Linked DNA regions of Homo sapiens: region 2 is linked to region 1. Evidence: fine-mapped expression QTL. Tissue or cell type: whole blood. Region 1 holds a variant in brackets; the other region holds the start of a gene. All regions are shown on one strand. Distances are from middle to middle.

Evidence for each region. PIP is the estimated chance that this variant, and not a neighbour inherited with it, causes the effect.
Region 2: CBX7 starts here. The variant in region 1 is fine-mapped to the expression of CBX7 in whole blood (INTERVAL, PIP above 0.99).

Annotation. Positions count from the first base shown.
Region 1 is chr22:39,124,115-39,132,215 of GRCh38, forward strand. It overlaps CBX7 (chromobox 7), which reads right to left. Exons shown (of 6, transcript NM_175709.5): 6 at 6,658-8,101. Among named protein-coding and RNA genes, the nearest start is that of CBX7, 25 kb to the right of the region's middle. RefSeq lists a silencer at 4,535-4,584 and an enhancer at 7,312-7,873. The variant G/A (reference allele first, on the strand shown) is at 4,012.
Region 2 is chr22:39,149,104-39,157,184 of GRCh38, forward strand. CBX7 (chromobox 7) reads right to left here and starts at 3,577. Exons shown (of 6, transcript NM_175709.5): 1 at 3,273-3,577; 2 at 686-729. The coding sequence starts at 3,341. It also overlaps the pseudogene FUNDC2P4. RefSeq lists enhancers at 1-119, 1-75, 3,155-3,736 and silencers at 3,194-3,243, 3,314-3,883.

The DNA.
Region 1 (8,101 bases):
ACAGTGGAAGAGGCGTCCGCCTTCCCCTGACCCCAGCGACCGCCGTCCCCTCCTCTCCCCTAGTGCCTGCATTCCTTCCTCTTTCCTTCTGCAGCTTTTCTCTCTTGCCCCCTCCCCTCCAGCTTCACAGGAACTTTCCCGCGCCTGCTTTCCTTCGTGCTGTATGGCTTTTCTTTCCAGGAGGCATCCGGACTGAACAGTGAAGCGGCCAGGGATGGGGGGGTGCGGAGGGGGTCGGGGAGGGGGGCGGGGGAGGGCAGTGAAGCTGGGAGGTGGACGGTGAAGCGTGGGGGACTGTGAAGCGGGGCGCTGACAGGGGATCTCCACGCAATGAGCTCTCCCGGGGCACCGGCCAGAAGCCACGCCTTCCAGGAATGGACCACGGACCGGCCTCAGATGGCTAGCTGTGGCCACCTGCCCAGGCGAGCTACAGGGAAGAAGACGGTGGCTTCCAAGTGTGCCCCCAGCCTTTTCAGGGCCTGTAAGGTCCACGGTTCTCATCATCATGTTTAAGATGTTGTCTTCCCGCTCTCATGTTCTCACAACGAACTGCGGAATTTTCCAGAGGCTGCATGCCATGCAATACTGCAACAGGTTTTTACGCAGGAGATATGATAATCCACCTAACTATTAAGCCAAACAAAAAAGAGGCAACGGGGCGTGGGGGGGACACGGCGGGGAGTAAAGCAACGCCAACTCTCCTCACTGAATCTTTCTGTTTTGGAAAATATATTTTTCATAAAATGTGTTACTTATGTTAATAGGTAATGGCTTCAGGCCCAGTGCGGTGGCTCACATCTGTAATCCCAGCACTTTGGGAGGCTCAGGTGGATCACCTGAGGTCGGGAGTTTGAGACCAGCCTGGCCAACATGGCGAAACCCCATCTCTACTAAAAACACAAAAATTAGCTGGGTGTGGTGGTGGGCACCTGTATTCCCAGCTACTCGGGAGGCTGAGGCAGGAGAATGGCTTGAATCCAGGAGGCAGAGTTTGCAGCCGAGATCACGCCACCGCACTCCAGCCTGGGCAACAGAGCAAGGCTGTCTCCAAAAAAAAAACAAAACAAAAACCATATATATATATATATATATATATATATATATATATATATATATATATATATATGAGAAATTTAAAAATATCTAATTCATTAAAAAATAATGAAGCCATTACTTTTTTTTTTTTTTTTTTTTTTGGAGAGAGTCTCGATCTTGTCGCCCAGGCTGGAGTGCAGTGGTGGGATCTCGGCTCACTGCAACCTCCACCTCCTGGGTTCAAGTGAATCTCCTGGCTCAGCCTCCCAAGTAGCTGGGATTACAGGCGCCTGCCACCACGCCTGGCTAATTTTTGTATTTTTAGTAGACATGGGGTTTCACCATGTTGGTCAGGCTGGTCTCAAACTCTTGACCTCAGGTGATCCACCTGCCTCGGCCTCCCAAAGTGATGGGATTACAGGCGTGAGCCACTGCACCTGGCCTCTAATATGATAAATATTGATAGCTATAACCCACATACACAAAAGCTCTCTGGGGTTCTTAACAGTTTTTAAGAATGTATATGGATTCAGCAACCAAAAAGTTTGAGAACTGCTGTAGAAGGATTAGTCATGAGGTGTCTGGTGCCAGATACAGGTTCAAGTCTCTGCTCTGCTACGTCCTAGCCATGTAGCCTTGAGTAACTAACCGCAGCCTCTCTAACCACTTGTCTCCACTCACAGAAACAGGTGCAACAATAGTACCTACCTCAGAGAGTCGTTGTCAGCATGCAGGTAACAACATACACAAGAGCTATACTGAGCACGTGTACCAGGGCAATTCTGAGACTTTTCTTGTTTTTCGTTTTTTCCTTTGAGACAGGATCTCACTCTGTCACCTGGGCTGGAGTGCAATGGCATGATCATAGCTCACTACAGTCATGACCTCCTGGACTCAAGCAATCCTCCTGCTTCAGCCTCCCATGTAGCTGGGACTAGAGGTGCCACCACACCCAGCTAATTTTTTCTCATTTTTCATAGAGACGGGGTCTCGCTATGTTGCCCAGGCTGCTTTCCAACTCCAGGCCTTAAGTGATCCACCTGCTTTGGCCTCCCAAAGTGCTGGGATTACAGGCTTGAGCCACCACACCCAGCCATGACATGTTCTTGGGGATTCAGAACTTGGGTTAAGGCTTAAAGCTAAAGACAAAGCATGCTGAGTGCCCCACTTTTTATTTTATTTTATTTTATTTATTTATTTTTTGAGACAGAGTCTCGTTCTGTTACCCAGGTTGGAGTACAGTGTCAAAATCTCGGCTCACTGCAAGCTCCGCCTCACAGGCTCAAGTGATTCTCCTGCCTCAGCCTCCCAAGTAGCTGGGATTACAGGTGCACGCCACTATGCCTGTCTAATTTTTATATTTTTAGTAAAGACGGGGTTTCCCCAAGTTGGCCAGGCTGGTCTCAAACTCCGGACCACAGGTGATCCTCCCGCCTCGGCCTCCCAAAGTGCTGGGATTACAGGCATGAGCCACTGCGCCCGGCCCTGAGTGCTCCACTTCCTAAAGGGAGCCACCAAGGAGTTGCCAGCAATCGACTAGAGCCAGACTCTACCCCCAGTGCAGGAAACTAGGACGAGGCAGAATCAGCCCTCATGTTACCACCTATGAGCATACACATGTGCGTGCATGCGTGCGCACACACATACACGAGCGTGCTATAGGAAAACAGCAAGAGTGACGCCACCTTGAAGCGTAACCGCCAGGAGGACTGGTGTCTGACCCTTGCATAACAATGTGTCCTGCAGCAAGGTCTTTAAACAATGCCCATCGCACAGATGACCCCTCGTAAAGATGCTTATCCAGCCTCCCCAGTGCTCATGAGTCTTGACAACAAAGTCTGAAGACATGACCAGCTACACGTTTCACCCTAAAAGCTTGCTATATAAAGAACACTTTCTGGAGGGCGGCTACGGGGATCTGCCATCTCTCAGCTGCCGGAGACACGGCCTCTGTTCTTAAGTCCCCATTAAATGTTTCTTTCTCAGAAACTGGATTTGTCAGCCTCTGTCTTTGGTCTCTTGCCTCCCTTGGTCTTGGGGGCAGGCATGCATAAATCTACCCACCACCAAACACAGGCACATCGCCTTCTTCCTCCTCTGACCCTTCCCCCACCCGTGGCTTTATCTACCACTATGTGCCCAGGCCCCAGCATCTGCATCCCAGCAAGTGTGGGGTAGCACTGAGGATGGTGGAGTCTGGGTGAGTGGCGCATGAGGGTCTTTATATTGCTGCCTCTACTTCTGCATGTTTGAATTTTTTCATAATAAAAAGTTTAGGCCAGGCACAGTGGCTCACGCCTGTAATCCCAGAACTTTGGGAGGCCAAGGTGGGTGGATCATGAGGTCAGGAGTTCAAGACCAGTCTGGCCAAGATGGTGAAACCATCTCTCTACTAAAAATACAAAAATTAGCCGGGCGTGGTGGCATGCGCCTGTAATCCCAGCTACTAGGGAGGCTCAGGCAGAGAATTGCTTGAACCTGGGAGGCAGAGGTTGCAGTGAGCCAAGATCGTGCCACTGCACTCCAGCCTGGGCAACAGAGCAAGACTCTGTCTCAAAAAAAACAGGGTGGGCGCAGTGGTCACACCTGTATTCCCAGCACTTTGGGAGGCTGAGGCGGGTGGATCACGACGTCTGAAGTTAGAGACTAGCCTGACCAACATGGTAAAACCCCGTCTCTACTAAAAATACAGGCATGGTGGTGCGTGCCTGTAATTCCAGCTACTCAGGAGGCTGAGGCGGGAGAATCGCTTGAACCTGGAAGGCAGAGGTTGTAGTGAGCCGAGATCACGCCATTGCACTTCAGCCTGGATGACAGAGGGAGATTCCGTCTCAAAAAAAAAAAAAAAAAAAGGCTGGGCACAGTGGCTTGTGCCTGTAATCCCAGCACTTTGGGAGTCCCAGGCGGGTGGATCACGAGGTCAGGAGATTGAGGCCATCCTGGCTAACATGGTGAAATCCCGTCCCTACTAAAAAA[G/A]ATACAAAAAATTAGCTGGGTGTGGTGGCAGGCACCTGTAGTCCCAGCTACTCAGGAGGCTGAGGCAGGAGAATGGCATGAACCCGGGAGGTGGAGTTGCAGTGAGCTGAAATCGTGCCACTGCACGATTCTACCAAATGTGTTTTTCTCCCCTAAGCTTCAGAACTGTTTGTGAACTGCTTGTGGGACCACTCTACCTCAACACCTGTATCATGGACTGAATGTCTGTGTGTGTGTCCACCCTCTCATCACCCACCGCAAATTCTTATGTTGAAGCCTTAGGCCCCAGTGTGACGTTATTTGGAGGTGGGGCCTTTGAGAGGTCTTTAGATTTACTTGAGGCCATGAGGGTGGGGCCCCCATGATGGTATTAGCATTCTTAGAAGAAAAGAAAGAGACATCAAAGCATCCTCTCTCTGCCAGGTAAAGACACAGTGAGAAGGTGACCCTCGCCAGATACTGTATCTGCCGGCATCTTGGTCTTGGACTTCCCGGCCCCCAGAACTGTGAGAAATGAATATCTGTGTTCTGGTGTATGACACTGTGTTAGAGCTGCCTGTACTGCCAACCCACACACACTCTGAACTCAGTGAAACCAGCCCGGCCACGCCTTCCTCTGCCAGGTGTTTCCACTTGCTCAGCTCTCACCCTGCCATCCTCATCTCTGCCTTTAGCCATGGCCAGGGTCCAGTCTTCACTTTCTGCCTAGTGGGTAATTTGGATGCCAGGTGGGGGTGCCTTGGCCTCTGCATGGACCCAGCTGAGAAGTGCACGAAGTCAACACGCCAGAGCAGCTTCAGTAATGGGATGGGAAGGATGGGAGAGTGGCTATAGATTCCTATCCCCAGTTGGACGGACAATTTCGGGAGGCGTTTCGAACCCTTCCCCGAAAGTCCAGGTGGAATCAAACTCCTGTTCCCACAGCACCCACCTCAATAATGTGCCCTTACCCTGGCTTTCCCTCCTCCCCTGGCCCTGTCTCCACTCTTGCTTCCTAGAACCCCCTCCCAAATAAACTACCTGCACCCAAGTCCCTGCCTTAGACTCTGTTCTCATGGACGCTGCATCAGCTTGCTACGGCTGCCATAATAAGCTCCCACAGACCAGGAAGCTTAAACAACAGAAATGTATCCTTTCACAGTTGTGGAGGCTGAAGTCCAGGATCAAAGGTCAGCAGGGTTGGTTCCTTCTGAGCTTGGAGAGAAGGCTCTGATGTAGGCCTCTCTTCCTGGCTTATGGATGGCATCTCTGTCTTCACACAGTCATCTCACAGCATGTGTTTGTGTCCAATATCCCCCTCCCCCCCTTTTTTTTTTTTTCGAGATGGAGTCTCCAGGCTGGAGTGCAGTGGCGATCTTGGCTCACTGCAACCTCCACCTCTTGGGTTCAAGAGATTCTCCTGCCTCAGCCTCCAGAGTAGCTGTGATTATAGGTGCCCGGCTAATTTTTGCATTTTTAGTAGAGACAGGGTTTCACCATATAGGTCAGGCTGGTCTCAAACTCCTGACCTCAGGTGATCCGCTCACCTCAGCCTCCCCAAGTGCTGGGATTATAGGCATGAGCCATTGTGCCAGGTCCCAGGCATATTCTTGATCCCTCACTTTCATCAATTCAGTGGCCACATCTTGACGCTTCCACCACCTAAACCTATCCCCAGTCTATCTGTTTCTCTTTCACTGACATGTCCACAGTTGCGGCCACCATCCCCTTCCACCTGCATGGCTACAACAGACTGTTTAACTCTTCTCCCCACCATCAGCCCTGCCTGCTCCAGCCTAGCCTCTGTCCTGCAGCCCATGATGCACTGAAATGCAGACGTGCTCCCAGGACTTGCCCTTGGCTCTGACCACCTGTCTCAACGTTCAGATGTGTGTGCTAAGCTTGGCTGAACACACAGTAGGTGAGCGTTAGCCCCATGACAGTCCTGCGATCCGGAATCTGCCGTTGCAGAGACCTGCGATGCTCACCCCTCCAAGGTTCTGGAATAAAGGACTCTTGGGGAGAAGCAGATAAAAGGTGCCAGAAGCACTTCCAGGCCTCTGATGACACACTACGGACCATGGTGATGGCCTCACCCAGAGACACCCGCAGTTTCCTGTTCCCGTCACCTCAGTGAATTCTCTGTCCATCTGGGGTCTCAGCGAAGGGAAAGACTTGTCCGAGATTATGGCCGGTGACCAGCAGACCTGGGACCTAAACCCCAGGCATTGCCAGGGGCTGAAGCTCTTTCTTCAGCACAGTGGGGACACCACTGTCTGGCCTCTGAGCTGCAGCTCAGCCATTGTAACCCCTGTGACCTGCACATATACATCCAGATGGCCTGCAGGTCCATTATGGCTTGTTCCTGCCCTGCCCCAACTGATCGACCTGGTGACCTTCTTCCGGACAATGAGTATTATGATCTCCCCAACAGGCACCTTGTGACCCCCTCCCCTGCTGACAATAGCTAACCACCTTTCACTGTAACTTTCCACTGCTTACCCCAGTCCTATAAAACTGCCCCACCCCTATCTCCCTTGGCTGACTCTTTTTGGACTCAGCCCACTTGCACCCAAGTGAAATAAACAGCCTTGTTGCTCGCACAAAGTCTGTTGGTGGACGGATGCACTTGACAACCACCAGAAGGAATAATCAAATGCCCAGGAATTTTCTTTTTTTTAAATCATCTTTAATGTATTTTTAATAATTTTTTTGCCTCATTTACCAGATAAATCATCTAAATAAATAGATGCTATACAGTCTCTTACCAATGTCAGTACAAAAATAAAACCGCGCTCTACATCCACTCTGACTCTCCCAGCACACACACACTCAGCAAAGGCATGTGCTTGGAATCAACTCGTGCCCCCGACCCCTCCCAGATACATTCATTTAGTCTGAACAAAGCTCGAAGCTCATTCTGTGCAAAGGAAGCGCTCTTGTGCTGAGACCTGGTGGCCGCAGCTGGCCACTTCGAAAGCAAAAGCTAAACCACCTCACAGAAGCACAGCGCCTGCCCCCAGAACAAGGGGACAGGAGGAGCTTGGCAACGAGGTCATCACCCGAACAGCAGTGACAGTCCTGCATTCCAGGCGGCTGTGCCAGGGGTGGGGGTACCTCCTCCGCACCCCCCACCACAAAAGGAAAAGTGCCCACGGGTCTCTACATTCAAAGCGGGTGGGGGCTGGGGGAAAGAAAGGCAGATGGGCAAATGCTTTCTAAACCCTCCCCCCACCCCCAAGAGTACTGGCCTTTTAAGAGGGCTGCGGGGGTGGAGGTCACTGTCTGCCTTGCTCTACTGGGCCACTCTGGGCTGGAAGGAGGCCTGCACGGCCACAGCCGTAGGTGACCTCATAGAGGTCACCTGTCCTGGAGGATGGTCCTAACGGCCCACAGCCTTTTCCCCCAGGGAGCTGGCTCACTACAGCCCATGAGCCACCTGGCTGCCCTGAGCTGGGCACCTCAGGCCCACCCGTCCCAGGTCACACCCCTGGAGTTCAGCTCTCCCTGAGCCACGGAGTTCCCCATGGGCCATAAAGGGCTGAGTAAGAGGAAAGATGTGTCCTGCTGCTGCAGACAAAAGCAACTGCAGCACCCACACAGAAAGCCCCGTGAATCCACAGACCCACAGATTGCGCAAATAGTTCTTTGAAAGTGACCAGGAAGCAGGAAAAAGGTCCTATGTCCCCTGGGGGATGGGGAGCGTGACTTCTGCTGGAAGCTGCCAGCCATGTTCCAAAGTCATGGGCCAAAACATTCAACTAGAGACCCCCCACAACCCTCTATCATCTTTACCTCCGCTGGGCACCCCTCTCCTGGAAGAGTCCCCTCTGAACCCCAAGCTTCCCCTTCCCCTCCACAGGGCTCCACAGCTGGAGATGGGTGGTGATTCCTGCCGCTCCTTGTCCAGACCCACCCCACGTATTCCTCTAGATTCCATTCCCTGGGCTGGAGGTGAATCAGGTCATCCCGGAGGGGACTGTCCCCCAATGGAAGCACTGAATTGACCGTGGACAACTAAAGATCGAGGAGGAAGGAAAGAGAGACTCAGGGATCTGGGAAGCCTGTCAACAGAGCACCCCATGCAGAAAGGGCTGCAGGCTGTCTTTGG
Region 2 (8,081 bases), 25 kb after region 1:
GAGAAGCTGGGAGGTCTCAGATACAGCTCCCTGCCTCCCAACTCCGAGATGGGAGGCTGGGAAGGCACAGAGGAGACACCTGAAAAGGAGAAGGCCTAGTTCAAGTCCCAACTCTGCCTCCACTTGCTGTGTGACCTAAGGCAAGCTGCTTACCCTCTCTGAGCCTGTTTCCTCACCTTGAGAGCGCCTGATCACACCTACCTTACAAAGCTGTATGGGAACCTGCTCTATAGACTGGAAAGTGCCGTCTAGAGGTGAGGGGGATTCAGGCTCTGCCCCTGGCCACACAGCACTGAGGACTCATGCAGCACTGTGCTTAAAGCAGCTGGGGTCCCCTCCTCCTGTCCAGCAGCCATCTCCAGTAGCCCGGATGCTGGGCCTTCACCTCCCAGTTGCCAAGAAAAGCCACAGGGAGGGGAGGAGGGAGAGCAGAAGCTCCAACTAGCAGAGGAGCTCAACACTCAGGAGGGCAGGGTGAGAAGAGAAGCTGGAGACCCACCTTGACCCTCCTGTGGTCCAGGGGGAAACTGAGGCCCAGAGAAGATGATGATTAAATCAAGGTCAGCTGTCCAGTTACAAGAGTAGCTGGAGCTAAAAGCTAGGCAGGGGAGGGGGCAAAAGGCAGGTGGAGGAATGCATGGGTCGGTAGGCAGACAGACAGACACACACACATGAAGGAGCTTACTTTGGGGGCCATCCTTTCCACTTCACCAGATACTCGACTTTACCCTGAGAAGAGAGAGAAGCAGACACAGTGAGTCTCGTGGTTGCCCCTACAGCCACTCGGAAGGACAGTTAAGGCCCAAAGGAGCCCAGCTCCAAATCCCATCTGCAGACAGGTGTCTCCCCAACACACAAACACAATCCGGGGACTGTCCACCAGATCCTCGCCAACCCATATAACCGCGACTGCTGCATGCCCGCCCCATACTGCCCTCCCTAGGACAGCACAGGAGTGCGTCTGGCTCCAGCCACCTCTGAGGCTCCTGAGGCCCAAGCCCAGGGCTCATGTCACACACTGGGAGCTGAGACTGCATGGAGGTGTGCATGCGTGGCCAAAGACCCACAGTGTCTAGAGCCCCAGTGCACAGGTGGGAACGCTTACTTTCTTTTTTAGATTGGAAGAGTCTCCAAATACGAAAACATTCCTCTCTGGGGTAGTCCCCACGCTCCTCCCCCATCTGCTGAGTCCCCTTTCAGTCTGTGAGTGGCTGCCTCTGGCTCAGAGGTAATGGGCCAGTGACTTGAGGACTCTCAACTCAAAAGACCCTGGCAGGACCCCATGGAAGACTGGCAAAGTCTCCACCTTCAGAAGGGGTGGTCAGCCCTGTGGTTGTTAGAAAGTAGAGCCAGGCCCCTCCCTTCCTCACAGGCTTTAAAAGTTTACAGTTACGGTGGCTCAAGCCTGTCATCCCAACACTTTGGAAGGCTGAGGCTGGAAGATCGCTTGAGCCCAGGAAGGAGTTTGAGACAAGCCTGGGCAACACGGTGAGACCCCTGTCTCTGAAAAAAGGAAATTAGTTGGGCATGGTGGCACTTGTCTGTGGTCCCAGCTACACAGGAGGCTGAGGCAGGAGGATCGTTTGAGCCGGGGAGGTTGAGGCTGCAGTGAGCCATGTTCATGCCCCTGCACTGCAGCCTGGGTGACAGAGTGAGATCTTGGTGCCAAGAAAAAAAAAAGTTTACAGTCCAACCCCATTGTGAGTGAAGCCCCTGCACGCCAGAACTTTAAGACCAAAATATGATACCTCCTCACAGAGGCTTTCCCTGGTGACCCTCTCCCATGCTGTCTCCACTGGCACCTTGCAGTTCTATTTCTGCAGAGCACACAGCTCCATCTGAAGGCATCTGTCTGTATCTCCTCATTCACTGTGTGCCGCCTCTGCAGAATGCCAGCTCCCTGAGGGAAGGGGTGGATCCCTGGGGCTTAGACTGGTGCCTGGTACCTGACCAACCCTCAATAAATATTTTGAGTGACTGGCCGAAGGAATGATGATCTCGCCCTCTTGTGCTACCCTGCGGGCTCCATCGTAGAGGGAGTTAGTGCTGTGCCTGCTTCAGGCTACACAGCACGAAAAGCACTGAGCTTTGTGGAATAAATCAATTCTCTTTTAAGTGGAGAAAACCCTAGGAAAAAGGAGAAGGAGGAGGAACAGCTGCCTCAATCAGAAGAGTAAAACCCCAAGCACAGCTGGAGGAAGAAAAGATGCTCCTGACCACCTTGACCTTCACCCTTGGCCCGAGATGCCAGGACTGAGTTTTCTCTATGGAGAAAGAAGATGGGCTGCCAATCAGCCCAGTTGAGCTCCTGCTCTACCTCCCTATCTAACTTGCTCGGTGACCTTGAGCAGGTCACTTCCTCTGCCTGGGCCTCAGTTTTTGTCTCTGTTAAATGGGAGGAGGTGACCCCCTAAGGCCCCTCCCAGTCGGCCTGGAGCCTCCCAAAGGGCTGCAGGGAGGAGGAGACAAAGGAAGGACAGTAGTGCGTACCAGGAAAGGAACTTCTCCCCAAGGATTTCCCCAGCCTTAGGCGAGCCCCCTCGCCAAACAAGTGCACGGGAGGTGTAGACGCCAGGCCCGGACAAAGTCTAGCCCCAAAGTGTGGGGTTCTGAAACCAGCAGAACAGACACCTCCTTAAATTGCAGGGTGTATGTTTTGAAGAAGGCAGATGGGGTAGGAGACTAGGGGATGCCCCAGCGCAGGGGGCGGGCTTCAGAGCCCTGGCCTGGGCTAGGAGTTGAGGTGGGGGTGGGGGCGGGGAATAGGGATGTGCTCGGGTGGCGTAGAGGGGGCAGGATCGGAAAAGGCCAAAGTCCAGCAGGAAAAACTTCAGAGGCCGGAGGAGACTTTTCCAAAGCTCCACTTACAACTTGAAAGGATTTGGTGCCAAGCGTCCAGAGTCCCGAGTTCAAAACCCAGCTCTGACCATAACGCGCTAGGCAAGTCCTTTCAACTTGGGCCTCAGTCTCCCCATATTTACAATAAAAGGGGAGCGAGGTGGGATGGCGCTGAGGATCCCTACGTCCGATCCTAATCTCCAGCTCAGGCAGGCTCGGCCGCCACTAGCATCCTGGAGCGACAACTTTTGTTCTACTCGCCCTACACGGTGGCAGGGAAACTGAGGCACGGGCTGGGGAGACGGGCCCAGCAGCGCAGGGCTGCCGGGGCCCCCGCGCCCCGCTTTCCCCTTCAGCCCCAGCGTGGAGGGAGCGGTGCTGGGGACGGGAGGGACCCCACTGGGGTCCTGGGAGCCGCCCCCGGGCAGCCTCACCTTCCGCACGCGCTTCTTCCGGATGCTCTCCACGGCGAACACCTGCTCGCCGATGGCTGACAGCTCCATGCGGGGCGGCGGGCGAGCGGGCCCGGGGCCGGGCCGGGCCGGGGGCGGAGCTGCGGGGCCGCGGCTGCGGCGCGCGATGCTGGGGCTGGCGGGGTCCCCGTCACCCTCGTCCGGGCGCGCACGCGCACGCGCACGCGCGCACACCCCCTCGCGCTCCCTCACGCCGCCGACGTTCCATTTTTGAACCTGCGCAACGTTTTCCTCGGCGCCAGCGAGCGAGCGCGCGCAAGGAGGGGGCGGGGCGGGAGCGCGCGGAACGGCCGCGGGCTCGGCTCGCGCCCTGAGGGTCAGCTCCGCCCCCGAGCCCCGCCCCCATCGGAACCCCGCCCCCGGGGCCCGCCCCCGCGGGTTGCGATTGGGCCGCGGGCCGCGAGCCGCGAGCGCTGCCGTGGGACTTATTTGGCTCGGTCACCGGCTGGGGCGGGGCGGAGGCTCGCGCGCCCCGTCTTGCTGTGACGCCGGGGCGGGACGTGATCCTTAATACCCAGGCGGGCGCCTCATAGCCTCCCGGTGACTGCCAGGGGCCGAAGTGGCAGGGCCCAGTGGAGCCGACGACAAAGTCAAGGCTCAGAGCGGGGAGGCCATTTGCTCACCTCCCGCAGCGGAGGAGACTGGGCCCGAGGCGCAGCCCCTCGAGTTGCAGGAGAGCCGGGACCCAAAAGGCTTCCCACCGTGTCCGGACGTCGCAGGGCCGAGGTCTCCCTAATCCGGCCTTCTCCGCGGCGCAGTTTGGCCAGTGTCTCCACGTCCGTCCACCCACCCCTCCATCCGCCCTTCCATTTGTCCATCCACCCGACCCTCGGTGGTCGGTGCCCAGACGCACGGGTCAGACGCGGGCGCTGCCTCGAGGGCTCCCGGGCCGGGCCCTCGTTCGCGGCAGGAGCGGCCGCGGTGGAGCTGAGGTCCCCCGGGGACGGATTTTGCCGCCGCGCTGCCCCAGCCTTCCCCAAACCCGCGTGTACTGGGCGCTAGGTGCTTAGTGGGGGCTCAACCATTTGTGGCACGAGACGAACTCTTGATTCCCCACCCCCCTTCCTTTTTCGCTAACGCGCCTCCATTCCTCACTGGGAGCCCGGCGTCGTCCCTGCTCCTTCCTGTACTGACCCCAACTTCTGTCGCTCCGGCATCCCCTCGGGGACTCGGGTCTGCCTGCCCTCACCGCACCCACCTCCCAGGTTCGCCCCGTCTTTTCTCTGGACCACAGCAGAGACCTCGCGGAGCTGCCCTCCCTCCGATCTCAGCCACACAGTGCCAGAGTGTGCTTCTAAAATGCAGATCTGACGGGGTCACCCTGTGCTTAAAAATTTTCCTCCCTATTTCCCTCACAATAAAATCCAACACCTCTTTCTGGCACATAGAAAAAGAGAATAATAGATTCACACCTGACTTTTCATCAAGAGCAACAAAGCCAGAGAGAAAATAACCATCATCTTAGAATTATATATTCAGTGAAAATGTATTTCAAGAATTATGTACCCAGTATGAGGCACATGTATCCAGAACGTAGGTGAAATCATAGCACTTACAAATACAAAAACTTAAGAGTTTGCCACTGGTAGACCCTCCGGAGGGAGATTCCAAAGCTGGAACTTCAGGCAGGAAAAAGATGATCCCAGACGGAGGTCTGATGCAACTGGGAATAAAGAAAAATGAAGAACAGCGATAGTGTGAAACAATAACAATGACTTCTGGATAAAAACAGATTTAAAATACACAACAGTGATGGCATTTACTTGGGTGAATGGAGTTAAAGTGTTCTAAGATCCTTATATTCTTCAGGAGGAAGGTGAAGATAGATACCAAATACACTTTGACGAATTTAAGAATCCAGATTGTCATTACTGGGATAAACACTGTAGGACTGGAAATACTGTGTATAGTTATCCAAATTATTGGAGGAGGAAAAAGAATGATTAAACCAACCCAAACAACTGTAAAGCAGGCAAGAATGGAGAGAAAAATAAATACAAGACGGGGCAGGGAGGGGACAAATAGACGATAGCTATAAATTCGAATATTTTGTGATTCAATAAATGCAACTAAATATTGCAGTTAAAATACAAAGATTATCAGAATGCATAAATAGCTAGATGCAGTTTACAAGAGAAACCCACAAGAGACACTTCCAAAACATAAAGCTAGTGATGGTCAAAAGTAAACACATGGGGGGAAAATACCACGCAAATGCTAACGAAAAGAAGGCTGGTGCAGTTATTTTAATATCGAGGGAAAAACATCACTAGAGATAAATAAGGTCATTTCATAATGAAAAGTGTCCAATTCACCAGAAAAATAGAACAATTTCACATTTGTATGCAAATCATCTTAAAATATAAGAAACATGAAGAAGACAGCTAGATGGAGAGATAGACAAATCCACAATTATAGTGGGAGATCTTAACACTCACCCCTCCATAAGTGGTAGGAGAAGAAGAAAAATATTCAATAGTATATAGGAGATTTGAACACAATTAATAAACTTAACTAATGGACTTCATAGCACACTGTTATCTACCATGGTAAAATACTCCCCTTTACAAGACATGGAATACTTACAAAAACAGTTCATTTCAATAAATTTCAAAAGTCAGAAATAACAGAATACATTCTCTGACCACAACACATATAAGCTAGAGATGAATAATAAAAAGTTCACTTCAAAAGCCCCATATGTTTGGAAAGTAAGAAGTATGGGTTTTTTTGTTTTTGTTTTTCATTATATTTATTTATTTATTTTGAGACAGAGTTTTGCTCTTTCACCCAGGCTGAAGTGAAGTGGCACGATCTTGGCTCACTACAACCTCTGCCTCCCAGGTTCCCAAGTAGCTGGGATTATAGGCACCCGCCACCACCCCCAGCTAATTTTTGTCTTTTTAGTAGAGGTGGGGTTTCACCATGTTGGCCAGGTTGGTCTCGAACTCCTGACCTCAGGTGATTCAACCATCTTGGCCTCCCAAAATGCTACAATTACAGGCATGAGCCACGGAAGAGGTACGTTTTTATGTTAACTAGCGGTTCAAAAAAAAGAAATTGTAATGGAAATTATAAAATATTTTTAACTGCTCTTCCGCTGTCGCCGTGGGAATGGAAATCTGTCCCTCGTGCTGGAAGCCAACCAGTGGTGATGACTCTGTGTGCCACTCCGCCTCCTACAGCGCGGATCCTCTGCGTGTGTCCTCGCAAGACAAGCTCGATGAAATGGCCGAGTCCAGTCAAGCAAACTTTGAGGGAAATTTTGAGTCGCTGGACCTTGTGGAATTTGCTAAGAAACAGCCATGGTGGTGTAAGCTGTTCAGGCAGGAATCTGGACCTTCCCCGAAAAGTGAAGGGTGGCAACCCAGCCGTTCATTGGGGGTGTCACTGAATGGTGCACGGGTTTCATATCCCAGAAGGTTGGAAAGTTGGCTGTAACAGTTGTGGGAGGTGTTTTGTTTTTTTCTCCTTCAGCTTGCAAATCATACTGGGTACATCAAAGTTGACTGGCAACGAGTGGAGAAAGATATAAAGAAAGCCAAAGAGCTGCTGAAGATCCCTTAAGAGCAATCAGATACCTACCAAGGTCAGGAGCAAAGCTGAGGAGGTGGTGTCGTTTGTGAAGAATGTTCTAGTGACTGGGGGATTTTTCGGAGGCTTTCTGTTTGGCATGGCATCCTAAGGAAGATGACCTTATTTTCATTGTTCTTGTTTTTTTTCCATCCAGCAGTCTCTACACTCCATCATAGGACATCAAGTCTCTCCTCTTCTCCTGTGCCTTCCTCCCTGCTGTAGCAAATCCGAGTGGCTTCTATAAGCATCTCTTGGTACAAGTTAATGTGGCCCTTGGCCAAGTGCGGTGGCTCATGCCTGTAATCCTAGCAATTTGGGAGGCCGAGGCGGGTGGATTGCCGGAGCTTAGGAGTTTGAGACCAGCCTAGGCAATATGATGAAACCCCATCTCTACTAAAATACAAAAAAAAAAAAAATTAGCCAGACGTGGTGGCAGGCACCTATAATCCCAGCTACTTGGGAGACTGAGGCAGGAGAGTTGCTTGAACCCGGGAGGCGGAGGTTGCAGTGAGCTGAGATCGCGCCACTGCACTCCAGCCTGGGTGACAGAGTGAGACTCCGTCTCCAAAAAAAAAAAAAAAGTTAATGTGGCCCTACCATGAGCTTGATGGTGGCAGAAGAGGCAATAGTTGTTAGGTCTCCTCCCATACACCCCGTATGTGGCCAATCTGTAGGTCAGCAAGAAGGTTCCTTTTCCCCCATGCAAGACACTTACCAGATCACATTGCAAGATGACTCGCCATGGAGGATGAGCAGACCCTGAAAGGTTGTCTCAAACTGTTGATTTGGAAAAGAAATAAGCACATAGATAAACTTATTGTGTGCTGCATGGAAAGGAACTGAATACATTTGCCTTTAAGCATGAAAAAAATATTTTTAACTGAATGACAATAGAAATATTACATAGTAAAAATGTTGGGCTATGGCTAGTGCGCTTCTTAGAGGGAAGTTTATTGCCTTTTGTGCTTATATTAGTAAAGAGAAAAGGCTGAGAGTAATGAACAAGCGCTCGTTTCAAGAAGCTAGAAAAAGAGCAGCAGAATAAACCAAAGAAAATGAAAGGAAGGCAAGAGTAAAGGTACAGGAGAAAATAGGCCAGGCACAGTGGCTCACGCCTGTAATCCCAACACTTTCGGAGGCCAAGGCAGACGTATCACCTGAGGTCAGAAGTTTAAGACCAGCCTGGGCAACATG